2 separate regions of the Homo sapiens genome follow, and region 2 is linked to region 1. Evidence: fine-mapped expression QTL. A gene starts in region 1. The other region holds a variant in brackets. All regions are shown on one strand. Distances are between the middles of the regions. Region 1 holds the start of LINC01963 (long intergenic non-protein coding RNA 1963). Region 2 overlaps XRCC5 (X-ray repair cross complementing 5).

Region 1 (8,533 bases):
AGAGAAGACTCGACATTTAAATATTACAATCAGGCCCAGTACATCAAAAGGTTTTTCAGGACAGGAAGGCACTCAAGTACGCAATCTCTGTAAACCCACTAGAACCAGTCCATGGTCGGTGGGCTTCTTAACAGGAGAAAGTTACTGAAATCACTCTCTTGTCCAGTCAAAGCTATAGTTATGGCTGGTAGAGTTCAGTTAGTCAGCATCTGGTAGGGCTGCAAGTGTTTTATTAGTGTTTATGGTGAGGCCACTGCTTGTTTAGCTGCTAGAGAGAAAGAGAATCCTTGTTGCAGTTAGAACCTAGTTTATTCTTTAAGCGTAGGGGTGCATAACTTAACCCTTGCCTGGCATGGTAATTTGTTATGTTGCTGCCACAAAGAATCTGTTCTGTCAATCTTAGGATCTCTATTTTAACTTTAATGCGGGTCAATTGTCTGTAAACCAGAAAAGGGAGGGGAGTATAACAAGTCGTGTCTAACCTGCTGTCCTGTCATGGCTGGGAACTCCGTTTTTAAGAATTTTCTGGGGTCCCCTTGGCCAAGAGGGGGTCCATTCAATCTGTAGGGGAGGAGTCTTAGGATTTTATTTTTAGTTTACATTCTCCCCTTTTAGCCAAGATGTGCCAGAGGCAACACTGATGACCAAACATTTATTTTGTCTCATGTCACTGCCAGGGTGGTGTCGTTACCTGCCCCAGGCTCATTTTGTTCTTTGGTGGGATCCCTGTGGCCAAGGGACTTGGAACCAAAAGACTTAAAACTAATTAAACATTGGAGGCCAGATGAAGATGGAGGTTCACAGGCACGCATTAACCCTTAAAAACCTTTTGAGCAACATAACCAAAAAGCAGTGTTACAAAAGTGACTTGTCTATGAGTTCTGTGTGTTGAGCCATGAGCTGTTTGGTAATCTGTATGCCCATCTTTAATTTGGAGGGTCTGAACTAATTTTATCTGTTGAAACTGGCCCTTACAATCTCATGTGCCCACCCCTTCTGTGATAGTCCATGGGCCTACTGGGAGGGTGCTTGATACTGTATTGCTTTAGCAGTAGTGCCTTGGCAATGGAAAGCAGATTGGCCTAGGGGGATTGAATAGTTTTCAAATTCTAGAGATACTAGGTAGAGAGAAAGGTAATCTTCAATGTTTTACCCAATTTCTGTAAGCTGTAAATAGTTTAAAAGAAAAAAGGTTTTATTGACTCTGAAAAGCAAAACATGAAGAATTAGCAATGTTTATTTGATTTTGAGGACATTTGTCAAAGATGTTCAAAGGCTCAAAGCTTTTAATCAAAATGGAATTACAGGTCATTGTAATAGTTATTCATTAAACCAAGAGTAATAATCAAAAGACTTTAAATGCAATATGGAAAGTCACATGGATGTAAAAACCTTAACCCTTTTAAAGCTTAGTTTTCCTAAGTAATAAAAAATCTAATAAAGAAAACATGGGAATTATCTTGATAAAATGTAAAATCTTTGGTTCTTAGGCCAGTTACCAAAAAGGCAAAGAAAAACCTACAGTGTGGTTGCTTCTCCTATGAGAAGCCCATTTAGATAACTTGGAAATCAAACTGTAAAAAGTTTACTTGAATTAATCAGACACAAGAAGAGTGTGTCTGGGGTCATGAATGAACTTTATGTTATGGAGGAAACAGGAAACTAGAAAACTGTACCTTGAGCCGGGGAATACATGACTCTTAATAACAGCATGGGAAGTTTTCTGGTTATATGGAACAATTCGGATATCAGGAAAAGCCAAGAGTACAGAATCAAGGTATACTGTAGGAAAACATTGCTCTTCGAGACCTTCAAGATAAAACATTTTAGCATCAGGCCACAGTGGCAGTTAGAACCAGAGGGAAAAAGTTACAGGAGCTGGCAAAACAGTTGAAGGGAAAAGTTATCATCTCAGGCCTTCTCAAAGGGGGAGAAAAACAAAGTAGCAAGACGCAGCAAAAGTGGAACTTCCAAGATACTAATCTGAGAAGTTTTCAACAAGAAACAGGTTTAGAATTAAAAATCAAAACCTCTTTTAATTGTATTAAGAGTAAATCATATTTTAAGACAACTTTCTTTTAAAACAAGGGACCAAAATTTAGAAAGACTTTTATAAATAATTTTAATTATAGCCAACTTAATCCCACACAAAATGCTTTTCATAAGTATTCTCTCACAAACCTTATCACAACTTAGACCATCTATAACATGCTTGTACTTTCTGATTTGTACTAAATTTCCCCTTTCCTTAATAACCAGTCATTTTACTTTAGGACAGAAATTTACCCTGCAAGATACTTTCATATATGAAATTATTCTCTTTTGAACCTTCCTTACCAAAAATACATCTTCATAGCTAACTTTTTTCACATCTCTCCTACTTACTGGTTTTCTACCTTCTTTCATAACTAACCTTTAAATAACATCCAAATTAAATAAAATTATTCTTTTTCTCCATAAGAACACATTTATTTGGCACATTTTATATATAGAATTCTATATTAACTAAAATTCTTACTCTTAGTAACCTTAAATTTTAGTGAAAACCTAGGAGGCAAGAAATATTGAATTGTCTGTTCTCTATCAGCACTTTAAAGATGAGAATCACGTCACAATTTTTAGAAACGTGTTTCTGGCCAAGCATGGTAGCTCATGTCTGTAATCCCAGCACTTTGGGAGGCTGAGTTTACATTCTCCCCTTTTAGCCAAGATGTGCCAGAGATGACATTGGTGACCAAACATTTATTTTTTCCCATATCTTTGCCGGGGTGGTGTGGCTACCTGCTGCAGGTTCATTCTGTTCTTTGGTGGGATCCTTATGGCCAAGGGACTTGGAGCCAATTAAACATTCTAGGCCAGATGAGGATGGAGGTGAACAGGCACTCATTAACCCTTAAAAACCTTTTGAGCAACAGAAGAGCCAAAAAGCAAGGTTACAACAGTGACTTACCTGTAAGTTCTATGTGACGAGTCATCAGCTGTTTAGTAACCTGTATGACCTGTTAACCATTTTTGTAGCCTGTGAATATCAGATGTTCATTTAAGTCAGAACCTTAAACATGTGGATATTTTTGCCAACAACTCAGAAGCTAACAAAACAGCTAACAACTTAGCTGTTTTCATTGAACCAACAATATTAAATTAGTCTTATTTGTCAAAAAATTCACACAAAGATCATTCTCTTTTTGACTGGGTTTATAGTCTTATAATCTTTTGTGCCAAATCCTGATACCTTAAAACACCTAGCGGAGGCAAATATAAAATAATCAGTAAACCCAGACTAAAAAAAAAATGTATGCTGACAATTCTGAAGACATTTCTAGTTTTATTTTACCAATAATTTTAAAACCATTTTATTTACCAGATTACTAAGTTCACATGAATCTGAAAAGTATTTGGACTTACTTAATTTATGAGTATAATTTACTTATAAACCAGTTTGGTACCATGCTAGATACAACACAACATAATACATGTTCATATACAAACATTTAAACACATACACACAAAGATCTTACAGCTTTTACTCTGGAACCTTAGCCATGAGATGGTAATACAGACTCACCACTTAACAAAAGACAGCTGGATCCAAATTATTTCTGACAAAATTGGGACCTGTTCACATGGCTAAACTTTATTTGTCCCAGTAGGTAATCCAATGAAGGCTATGGACCAAAGTCTTGGGAAAAGTAGTTTTCATGGCAGTTTTATTTTTAAAAACCTTTTACCCCTTTTTTTTTTCCTGAAGTTTCAAATGAGTTTTCAGTGTTTACATTTTAGCTACAATTGGCTGAACTGTAAAGAAAGCTCCAAGTAGCCTTGAATTAGTAGTATCATAAACAATGAGTTTTATCTTAACAGCAGTAGCTTAATAACAGCAAATTCAAAGCAGGCCGAAAACAAAAAAGAGATAGCTTTAGAAAACTCTACATTTTAATTGTATAGTTGCAGGTTGGGCATTTGAGCTCTGAATTTTCCTTGCTGTAATTTGCCCGTTCAGTTTTAAAATGTGCACAAGAACAGGCCACAATATGCAGCTAGCTGAAGTGCTGGAAAACCTGGCATGCCTTTGAACTTCTACAGGAGTTCCTGCCCCTAGTGGGTAAGTTACCTATTGCACTGACTTTATGAAGATATCTCTTCCAGTGCCCTTAGTGTGAGCATCCCCACAAACCTTATGAACCAGTTGAATCCAACCTGAATGCCTCTCCATAAGCCCGGAGCCCACAAATGCATTTTCTCCAGGGCCCTTGGATGGAGGGAATCAGGAAGGCCTCCTCCAAACCCAAGGCTAGGAGAGATGTTCCCTCCGGGGTCCAGGGAGGAGAACAGAAAGGACTGAGAAGAACTAGGAATGCCCTCCCAAACCCAAGGCCAGCAGGAGGGTCTCCTCCGGAGTTCCACAGATGGAGGAGGCCTAAAAGAAGAAATCAAGTCTGCAACCTAAAAGTGGGAGATCTTGGATTTTGATAGCACTTACCCAGATCCTTTCCCAGCATAGTCAGGAACAACTGGACTTTTTCAAAGGGACCTTGGCTGTACCTGGTGTCCTGGGTGACACAGGAAAAGGAATTCAGGGGCTGCTTCAGAATCCCATCTTTGCCAGATACGTTAACTTTAAAAAAAAAATCATAAGATACAAATTTAGAAAAATGGAGACACTATTTCTTAAGGGTGACAGCCTGCCAGGTGGCCATCCTGCAGGCCAGGAAGCACAGCCTCCTCCAGCAGAAGCCCAGAGACAGGCACCTCCAAGGAGGAGGGGTTGGGGTAGGAGTTTTATGCTTTTATGCTGAATGGGTTGGCTTAACACATATTCAACAGGTTACAGGAGGAGCTATGAATATTAATGAAAGTGGTCCTGATGCATGCATATTAAACATGCATCTTACATATGACACATGTTCACCTTGGGGTGGAGACTTAATATTTAAATATTGCAATCAGGCCCTATACATCAAAAGGTCTATTCAGGACATGAAGGCACTCAAGTATGCAATCTCTGTAAACCCGCTAGAACCAGTCATGGTCGGTGGGCTCCTTACCAGGAGAAAATTACCGAAATCACTCTTGTCCAATCAAAGCTGTAGTTATGGCTGGTGGAGTTCAGTTAGTCAGCATCTGGTGGAGCTGCAAGTGTTTTAGTATTGTTTATTTAGAGGCCAGTGCTTATTTAGCTGCTAGAGAAAAGGAAAACTTGTGGCAGTTAGAACATAGTTTATTCTTTTAAGTGTAGGGCTGCATGACTTAACCCTTGTTTGGCATGGCCTTAGGTCCTGTTTGTAATTTGGTATCTTGTTGCCACAAAGAGTGTGTTTGGTCAGTCTTATGACCTCTATTTTGACATTAATGCTGGTTGGTTGTGTCTAAACCATAAAAGGGAGGGGAGTATAATGAGGTGTGTCTGACCTCTTGTCCTGTCATGGCTGGGAACTCAGTTTCTAAGGTTTTTCTGGGGTCCTCTTTGCCAAGAGCGTTTCTATTCAGTTGGTGGAGGGGACTTAGGATTTTATTTTTAGTTTGCAGCCAGGGTCAGTACATTTCAGTCACCCCCGCCCAGCCCTCCTGATCCTCCTGTCATTCCTCACATCCTGTCATTGTCAGAGATTTTACAGATATAGAGCTGAATCATTTCCTGCCATCTCTTTTAACACACAGGCCTCCCAGATCTTTCTAACCCAGGACCTACTTGGAAAGGCATGCTGGGTCTCTTCCACAGACTTTAAGCTCTCCCTACACCAGAATTTAGGTGAGTGCTTTGAGGACATGAAGCTATTCCTCCCACCACCAGTAGCCTTGGGCTGGCCCACGCCAACTGTGGAGCTGGAGCGGGAGGGAGGAGTACAGACATGGAATTTTAATTCTGTAATCCAGGGCTTCAGTTATGTACAACATCCATGCCATTTGATGATTCCACCACTCCTTTTCCATCTCCCAGAAGCCTGCTTTTTAATGCCCGCTTAATATTATCAGAGCCGAGCCTGGAATCAAACTGCCTCTTTCAAAACCTGCCACTATATCCTGGCTTTGTGACCTCAGCCAAGTTGCTTGACTATTCTCAGTCTCAGTTTCTGCACCTGTCAAATAGGGTTTATGTTAACCTAACTTTCAGGGCTGTCAGGATTAAATGAGCATGAACCACATAAAATGTTTGGTGTATAGTAAGTGTACAGTAAATACTTCCATTATCAGTCCCTGCAATTCTATTTTTCTTCCTTCTCTACACAGCCCCTGTCTGGCTTTAAAATGTCCTGCCCTGCTTTTTATGAGTGGATACCCCCAGCCCTATGTGGATTAGCAAGTTAAGTAATGACACTCAGAGACAGTTCCATCTTTGTCCATAACTTGCTCTGTGATCCAGTGTGCATCACTCAAACAGACTATCTCTTTTCTCCTACAAAACAGACAGCTGCCTCTCAGATAATGTTGGGGGCATAGGAGGAATGGGAAGCCCGCTAAGAGAACAGAAGTCAAAAACAGTTGGGTTCTAGATGGGAGGAGGTGTGCGTGCACATGTATGTTTGTGTTTCAGGTCTTGGAATCTCAGCAGGTCAGTCACATTGCAGTGTGTCGCTTCACCTGGCTCCCTCTTTTAAAGATTTTCCTTCCCTCTTTCCAACTCCCTGGGTCCTGGATCCTCCAACAGTGTCAGGGTTAGATGCCTTTTATGGGCCACTTGCATTAGTGTCCTGATAGAGGCTTAATCACTGCTCAGAAACTGCCTTCTGCCCACTGGCAAAGGGAGGCAGGGGAAATACATGATTCTAATTAATGGTCCAGGCAGAGAGGACACTCAGAATTTCAGGACTGAAGAGTATACATGTGTGTGATGGTAAATGGGCAAAAATCATCCCTTGGCTTCTCATGCATAATGCATGGGCACACAGACTCAAACCCTCTCTCACACACATACACATATACATTGTTATTCCACACACAAGGCATAATCCCAGTGTCCAGTGCACATGCATACACGCACACATTCCCTTCCTAGGCCACTGTATTGCTTTCCTAGGGCATCTTCTTATAAGACACCAGTCGTATAAGGAGCCCACCCCACTCATCTGAGCTTATCAACCAATTACATTAGGAAAGACTGTATTTCCTAGTAAGGTCACATTCAGTAGTACTGAGGGTTGGGACTTCAACACAGCTTTTTGGGGGATCATAATTCAACCCATGACAGCCACTGAGATTATTATATCTCCAGAGAATAAATGTGTGGAGTTAAAAGGAAGATACATGTGGTACAAGGGGTGGTAAGGCAAGGGTAAAAGGGGAGGGAGGGGATTGAACTAGACACAGACACATGAGCAGGACTTTGGGGAGTGTGTTTTATATCTGTCAGATGCCTAGAACAGCACCTGAAATATGGGACTCAATCATTTTAGTCCCCTTCTTTCTATAAGTGTGTGTGTGCGGATATGTGTGCTAGATGTTCTTGCTGTGTTAGGAGGTGATAAACATTTGTCCATGTTATATAGGTGGAAAGGGTCAGACTACTAAATTGTGAAGACATCATCTGTCTGCATTTATTGAGAATGTGAATATGAAACAAGCTGCAAGTATTCTATAAATGTTCACTGTTATTAGATATTGTATGTCTTTGTGTCCTTTTATTCATGAATTCTTGCACATTATGAAGAAAGAGTCCATGTGGTCAGTGTCTTACCCGGTGTAGGGTAAATGCACCTGATAGCAATAACTTAAGCACACCTTTATAATGACCCTATATGGCAGATGCTCCTGAATGTGTGTTTCGAGCTAGAAAATCCGGGAGTGGCCAATCGGAGATTCGTTTCTTATCTATAATAGACATCTGAGCCCCTGGCCCATCCCATGAAACCCAGGCTGTAGAGAGGATTGAGGCCTTAAGTTTTGGGTTAAATGACAGTTGCCAGGTGTCGCTCATTAGGGAAAGGGGTTAAGTGAAAATGCTGTATAAACTGCATGATGTTTGCAGGCAGTTGTGGTTTTCCTGCCCAGCCTGCCACCACCGGGCCATGCGGATATGTTGTCCAGCCCAACACCACAGGACCATTTCTGTATGTAAGACAATTCTATCCAGCCCGCCACCTCTGGACTCCCTCCCCTGTATGTAAGCCCTCAATAAAACCCCACGTCTCTTTTGCTGGCTCTGGGTCTCTTTGGCGTCTTGAACCTTATGCCTTCCCTATTGAAGTTAATAGGGGTTCAGCACAACACTGGGTCCCAGGCATGCAGCCTTGTCTTTTTATGTTTGTCCTCATGGGCATCATGTGGGCCACAGGGATCTTACCCAAAATCATGCCTAGCAGGAAGAGATGCCTCTCTATTGATATTCCAGCTGCCCCACAAGCAGGTATGTGCCTACTCATTCTCTGACATGTGTCCTAGGTTTCTTGACTGTAAAATTCCGCTTAATAAATAATGTATTGAGCACCTGCTATATCCAGAGCTCTGCTGGGCACTCTGGAAGATTAGAGTTTGAAGAACACACATTCGTTGTCCTCCAGAAGTTCATGGTCCAGTAGGGAGAGAAGGTCACAAACAG
Region 2 (8,000 bases), 39 kb before region 1:
AAAGTTTATGTGTTGGAAACTTAATCCCCATTCTAACGGTGTTGAGAGGTGGGACCTTTAAGAAGTAATTAGGTCATGGAGGCATCATTCTCATGAAAGGATTCAGGCCATTATCACTTGAGTGGGTTAGTTATAAAAAGGATGAGTTCGGCCTGATTTCTTCTCTGTCTCTGGCTTGCTTCTGCCTTCTGATGTGGGGTGGTCTCCTCCAGCTGCCGGTGTCATGCTCTTAGACTTCCCAGCCTCCAGAACTGTGAGCTAAATAAATATCTGTTCTTTATAAATTACCCAGTCTTGGGTATTCTGTTATAGCAGCACAAAATACACTAAGACAGCTAATATTTTGTTGGGAAATTGTTTGTAGTTTTCTTGTTTTGTGTGATGTCTTTGGTTTTGGTAACAGGAAAATACTGGACTCATAGAATGAGTTAGGAAGTTTCCTTCTCTTCAAGATTTCTATTATTTATTCTTTACATATTTCATATAATTTACCAGTGAAGCCATCTGAGTTCTTTGTGGGGAGCTTTTGTTTTGTTTTGTTTTTTGAATTTTGAGATTGTTTCATTTGAAGGTCACCTTAATGCTCTTAAATTCAAAAATATGCTAATTTAAATACCAAATCCTATTAATCTAAAACACACATTGCAAACATACAAATATCTCTTCTCTTCACATGTCAGTGCCCATTCATGTCATGGTTTGGAAATGGGGACAGTAGATTCCCCTTGAGCTGCAAGTCAGCATATGTTTCTTTATAGTTAACTTTAGCAAAATTTATACAAAATAGTAATTAACAATAATCTTCTTTATTTGTTAACTCAAAAGAAAATACCTTCAAAACTGCATTTTAAGTTTCTGTACTAAAATACAGAAAAACTACACAAATATTGAAAAGTTGAAAGTTCTTTAATTTTTTTATTCCTGTTATCACTACCACAATTTACAGGGCAATATACTTGATGTAATGAAAAAGAAACAGACAAAGCTACAACAGATAAAAGAGCTCAGGAATGTACGTCTAATCGACACTATATTGCATTCATTAATAGCTGCACTTTTGCAAACTGTGGCTATGATAGTCCTGCACAAGAAGGGTTTTCTGTTTAAGCTGCAATAACTTTTCTGACCATGGATCACCATTCCTTCTGTGGCAGATTTTTACAGTTCCTCTAATGCATTTGGGATGACTATCTCAAATAACCTGCAACTTTTGTGACAACTCCTTGTTCTTTCTCCTGCTAAGAATTGTAGCCCCTCTCTGCTGTTTTTAGAACCTTCTGCTACCATATCCGTCACGTCTACCGCCAGATCCGTAACCACCACCACCACAGGAACTCCCCGAGCTTCTTCCACCAAAACTGCACCCTTTAATGGGTTCATAATTTGATTGTTTTTGTCTGCTAAAATTTCCAGAATCATTATAGTTCCCACCACCACCATAGTTACCACTGCCAAAATTTCCTCCTTCATTGTAACCATCATATCCTTCACCACTATCCCCATACCCGCCATTGTGGTTTTCATATCCTGGTTCACCATCTCCATAGCCCCCACTACTGCTGTAGGCAGGCCCACCACCATTGTTGCCCACCGTCACCTCCACATCCATTATATCCACCATTACACCCTCCATAACCACCTCTGCTGCCACCACCTCTACTTCTACCACCAGAGCCTCCTCTTCCACCAAAGTTTCCACCACAGCCAAAATTACTTGCACCACTTCCAGAGTTTCCTCCACAACCCATAAAGTTGTCAGATCCACCTCCATCACCTCTGTGATCCTGCAGACTGCATCTCTTGTTTAGAAAGGGCCTTTTTCACTTTACAGTTGTGCTTGTTAATAGTGTGGTGTTTCTAAACAACAGTTTTATCAATTGTATCATGATCATCAAAAGTTAAAAGTGCACATTCTCTCTTTTTCCACTCTGTCATCCATAACTTGTATGGTTTCAGTCTTGCTATAGTTTTCAGAGTAATTTCTGAAACTGTATCTACTTTAATACCACCAGCAAAAATGTTCTTCACTGTTAGGTGGGCACCAGGCTTTACAGAATCCTCTCTAGAAACAACTGTCTTTGGTTCCACTCCACACCCATCAACCTTGTGTGGTCAAGCACACATTGCTGTGTCCACCTCTTCAACACAAGAGAAAGCCATAAAACCAAAGCCCCTGGAATGTTTGCTTGGGGTTCTGTCATTACCACACAATCTGTGAGTGTGCCCCCTTTCTCAAAATGTTCTCTTAACCCATCATCTGTAGTTTTAAAGCTCAGACCACCAATAAACAATTTTCTCAGCCGCGCTGGATTCCTTTGGATCATGGCCTTCCTCCTCTTGGCGGCAGTGGCAATGACAACGGCCAGAGTCAGCCTAGGGGCAACCGGGTAGTGGTTTTACCTCCATTTTAAGACTAGACTTGCCTCCTCCAACTCAAGTTCAACATGGAACTGTGAGGAAGAGGCTGTGGGAAGCTTTTTAATACTAATTCAATTTTTTTCTTTTTTTTGGATACGGGGTCTCACTCTGTTGCCCAGGCTGGAGTGTAGTGGTGTGATCTTGACTCACTGCAACCTCTGTCTCCCGGGTTCAAGCCATTCTCCTGCCTCAGCCTCCCAAGCAGCTGGGATGACAGGCGCCCGCCACCACACCCGGCAAACTTTTGTATTTTTAGTGGAGACGGGATTTCACCATATTGGCTAGGTTGGTCTCGAACTCCTGACCTCAAGTGATCCACCCACCTTGGCCTCCCAAAGTGCTGGGATTACAGGCGTGAGCCACTGCACCGGGCCCAATTTTTAAGCTAATAAATCTGGTCAGTTTTAAAATTTCTTATTGAATCAGTTTTAGTAATATGTCTTTATAAGAATTTGTTCCTTTTGTCTAATTTTTTAGTATAACATTGATTATTATTCCCTTATAATAATATTTTTGAGATCTGTTCTTTATTTCTGATTTGGGGATTTTGTATCTTCCCTTTTTCTTGGTCAGTCTAGGTAAAGGCTTATGGATTTTATCTTTTTAAGATCCCAGCTTTTAGTTAGTTTTATTGATTTTCTCCATTATTCTCATTTAATTAATTTCTGCTCTGATCTTTATTATTCCATTCCTTCTTCTTACTTTGGCTGTAATTCACTTTTCATTTTCTTGTTTCTTAAGGTGGAAGCTTAGATGATTGATTTGAAACCTCTTTTCTAATATAGGCATTTAAAGCTATACATTTCCTGCTAAGCAGTTTTTTAGCTTCACACCATAAATTGCGATGTGTTATGATTTTGTTTTCATTTAGTTTAAATATATTCTAATGTCTTTCATGATTGTTTCTTTGACTCTTGGGTTATTTAAATGTGTTCTTAAATTCCAAATATTGAAGATTTCCCAATTTCTTCCTGTTGTTGATTTTTAATTCTGTTATGATTGGAGATCATACTTTGAGTGGCTTCAGTCC[G/A]TCTGAATTTATTCAGACTTGTTCTTATGTGGTCTCACATATAGTCTGTTCTGCCAGTTGTTCTCTATGGCCTTAAAAAGTACATGTATTCACCTGTTACTAGGACAAGTGTGCTGGAAATGTCAGGGCAATTTGGTTGATAGTTTGTTCAAATCTGTCTTTTGACTTTCTATCTAGTTGTTTTCCGTGACGTTTTGAGTATTGAAAGTTATTCACCTTGAGACCTTGTGTGCTAGTGAGACCTTTATGATTTTGGTCTCACCTAGCTAAACCAGCTTGGGTCATGAGATCCTAGTGAATTTTTACAGGGTGACACTAAAGAAAACACTGTCAATTCAGGTAATAGAGTATATGTTAAATAAAAGTCTTCAGGTATTGGCATTTTAGGAAAAATAAACTTAGCTATGTGTGCTGCAAGACTGTATGTGTTTCTGAATCCTCTGCTTCGAGGGAAAAATCATATTAGTAGAGGATAAGTTTACTCAGTACTGGAAAAATTGTGTAGATTTTAGGAACTTGTTGGAGCAGAAAGGCGATTAATTGTGAGAAATGAAAGTCAATTTTAGTGGCAGCAGGTATATCAAGTACATCAAGTCTTAGTTCAATGTTTATAGATTTTGAAAATTTATAGGTTCATTATTCCTTTCATTTGTTTCTTCTTTTGTCCCATTTTTGTCAAGCATGTATTTATTTTGTTTGAATCCTTTTTTGTCTCATGGACTGAGAAGAAAATATAACTAAGGTTGGATTATCCCACAATTTGCTCTGTGTCTAATTATTCTGAGGTGGATTGTAATGAAGCCAGCAAGACTTATACATTGGAATTTTAAATGTATGGGATTGTAAGGAGGGTAGAAGCTACAAACCAAAGATAAGATATGCCTGCAGATCTGCTTCAGATTTCCTGAGGGCAGTAGATGAAATTATTTCTAAGGGCCTTTTTCACCACTGCTCTTTAAGTATATGAGTAATAAACAAAAAGAACAAAGTATGTGGTTCAGAAGGAATAAAACAAAAAAGAAAGAAAAGGATCAATGAAATAGAAGTATTGTGTCACCCCATGAAAATTGTCTTCCTGTTGAGAGCTCACTAGAAATAGAAACAATTGTTTTTTATCTCCTTGTATGACAATCTCTTAACTGTTTCGAGATGATTTACTTGCTTCTTAGGCTTCCATTAAAAATAAGCACATGCTTATATGGGGGAAAATGCAAATAGTAATATAATAGCATATAAAGTTAAAAAGTGGACATCTCCTTCTTTATTGTCTCCCTCCCTTTGAAACTCTGCCCATACCCACATTCTGTGTCTTCATAGGAATAACCCTGTTCATCCCTACTGATGCCCTGTATTGTGATCAAGATGGTTAATTGTTTTAGGGTATAATAAATTGGGGATATAGTCAGAGACAGTACATTTTGGGAGAACCCTCCATTCCCAGTGGCATCAAGCAGCTTGATCAAAGAAAAGAAAAAGGTGTACACCAAGATGAGATGAGGCATACTTAGTAAGCAATAATAAAACGTCAAGATGTCTTCATGCATATAATCATGACAATGTTGGATGTGATATCTCATCCCTGTACATCTGCATATATATCTTATATAGCATGTTATTCTTTCTGCATTTCCCCCTTCAATAGAGCTTTATTGTAACCATTTCCATCTCTGTAAAATTAAGGGAGGGAGGGGATAAAAGAGAGTTCTAGACTGTCTACTCCCCTAAGTGGCAGCCAGTGCTAAATACACAGCTTATGGGTTTAAACTGAACGAACAACAAAAAGACATGTTCATTCCTTAGGCTTTTAGAGGAATAAACCAGTGAGGCCTACACCATTTATTCATCCATTCAACAATTATTTGTTGAATGCCTACTGTGTGCCAGTCATACCAAGATACAGACAGTAAACAAATAAGAAAATATATGTCAAATGGTGATAAGCATTTGTGTTAGTGTCCTAGTGCTGCAGTAATGGAGTTCCACAAACTGAGTGCCTTAAAGCAGTGGAAGTTTATCCTTGCAGTTCTGGAGACTAAAGTCCAAAATCACAGGACTGCTTCCTTCTGAGAGGTATGGGGGAGAATCTGTTCAATGCTCTCTTGTAGCCTTTGGTGACAGCTGGCAATTCTTGCATCCCTTGACTTATAGATCCATTACTGTAATCTCTCCTTCTCTCTTAACAGGGGAGTTCTTGTATGTCTGTATCCAAGTTTGCCTCTTCTTATAAGGATGTCAGTCCTATTGGATTAGGGCCTTTCCTAGTGACCTCATCTTAATTTGATCACACATCTGCAAGGACTCTCTTTCCAAGTAAGGTCACGTTGTGAGGTTTTGGTAAGGACAGGAATGTGGGGGCGGGGTGGGGATACTATTCAGCCCATGACAGCACTATAGAGAAAAGTTAAAGCAGGATAGTGGGATAGGGAATGCTGGGTTGAGATGGGCTTATAATTTTATGTAGAGGATCAGGGAAGTCCTCACTGTTGAACTGAGAATTGAGGATAGTGAGAGAGAGAACCTAGTGGATATCTGGGAGGAGAGCTTTGCAGACAGAGGGAGCAGCATGTTCTTGAGAAGCTCAAGATGACTATGCTTGGCTAGAAGCATCAGGGAGGTCCGTGTGACTGGAGCAAAGAAAGTAGGAGCTGAGAAGTCAGAGAGCTGGCTGGGGTACATATCACATAAGGCCTCCTAGACCTTTTGCTTTTCTCTGAGTGAAATGTGAAACCATTGAAGAGTTTGAAGTAGCGAATGATCTGGTTTTATATTTCATACCATGTTGAGGAAAAGGGCAAGGTTGAGGTAGGCAGATGAGTTAGAAGGCTTCGGCGTTAATCCACGTGACCGGAGGTAGTAAGAAGAGGTCCGATTTTTGATCTGTTTTGAAAGTAGAATTGTCAAGTTTTGCTGATCATTTGAATGTAGAGTGTGTGAGAGAGAAAAAGTTTAAAAATAACTCCCAAGATTTTTAGTCTGAGCAACTGGACGAATTGCCATTTGCTGAGAAGGAGAAGATGGTCATGCAGGTCTGGACTTCAGGAAAAAGGTCTGAGTTGTATGTATAAATCGTGGAGAAGGAGCCATAGAGACTTTAAGACATGAGACTGGAAGAGATCCTTGAGTAACGGAGAGGCATGGGATCTAGGGCACAGGTGGAAGGGGTAACTTAGATAACACACAGACAGTTCAGCAAAGGCAATAGGATGGAAGGCAGACTATATGGGTGCAGATGCAGGTAGGTGACTACTTTGAAGAATAATTCGTGGAGGGGCCGGGTACAGTGGTTCACGCCTGTAATCCCAGCACTTTGGGAGGCCAAGGCGGGTGGATCACTTGAAGCCAGGAATTCAAGACCAGCCTAGCCAACATGGCAAAACCCCATCTCTACTAAAAATACAAAAATCAGTCGTGCATGATGGCTTGGGCCTGTAGTCCCAGCTACTCAGGAGGCTGAGGCACAAGAATTGCTTGAACCTGGGAGGCGGGAGGTTGCAGTGAGCTGTGATCATGCCAGTGCACTCCAGCCTGGGCAACAGAGCAAGACTCTGTCTTAAAAAGAATTCCTGGAGGAGGTTGGCATAACCTGGTCCATTATGGTAAAGGTGGATAGGAGAGGGCCCAAAGAAGGGCATTCTAAGGAAGGCAACCACCTAAGTGATGGCGTGTCCTGATGTTATTAATGGGACTTTCTCCAGAAATAAGCAGTGTTGTTAACTGTTGTTTTGCCCCTTGAGTATCTTTTTTTTTTTTTTTCCGAGATGGAGTTTCGCTGTCGTTGCCCGGGCTGGAGTGCAATGGCGCGATCTCGGCTCACTGCAACCTCTACTTCCCAGGTTCAAACAATTCTCCTGTCTCAGCCTTCCTGAGTAGCTGGGATTACAGGCATGCACCACCACACCCAGCTAATTTTGTATTTTTAGTAGAGACGGGGTTTCTCTGTATTGGTCAGGCTGGTCTCGAACTCCCGACCTCAGATCATCCACCCGCCTCGGCCTCCCAAAGTGCTGGGAATACAGGCACGAACCACTGCGCCCGGCCTTGAGTTTCTTCATTGGCATTTCTGACAACTTTGTATCCATTTCTCTTCTGCTTTCTAATCATCTTCTAATTTACTTCTCAGGTCTGTCTTTTCCTTTCCATCTTATCACTATCCGAATTCAGGCTTTCATTATTTTATCATTGGACAGTTCCAGCATCCTTCATTAATAACCTTCAAAGTTCTCCTTCATTCCTGCCCATATGTTTGTACAGATTTAAGTTCTTATAGCACAGATTTTATTCTGGGTCAGCCCTTATTAATTACTCCCATTCAGTCCCCCATTCAAGGCTTGCCACAATCTGGTCCCATTCTGCCACTCCCGACCCATTCTTATACAGATTCCCTCTGTGAACCTTGTATTCAAACCATGTTCCTGCTAATGCCCTTGCAGCATCGGCTTTCTAAAGCTGATTAACTCTTTTAAAAAAATGGCCATTCTTATCTTTACCCCCAAATCCTACTCTAAAGAGATGCTTGTGATTTGAGAACCGGTATATCTTTGGATCCCAATGC

The links.
Region 2: its variant is fine-mapped to the expression of LINC01963 in whole blood (TOPMed, PIP above 0.99).

Annotation. Positions count from the first base shown.
Region 1 is chr2:216,212,057-216,220,589 of GRCh38, forward strand. It overlaps LINC01963 (long intergenic non-protein coding RNA 1963), which reads left to right and starts at 4,833. Exons shown (of 1, transcript NR_037701.1): 1 at 4,833-8,136.
Region 2 is chr2:216,173,627-216,181,626 of GRCh38, forward strand. The region is part of intron 16 of XRCC5 (X-ray repair cross complementing 5); the gene reads left to right. It also overlaps the pseudogene LOC100421349. Among named protein-coding and RNA genes, the nearest start is that of LINC01963, 39 kb to the right of the region's middle. The variant G/A (reference allele first, on the strand shown) is at 3,449.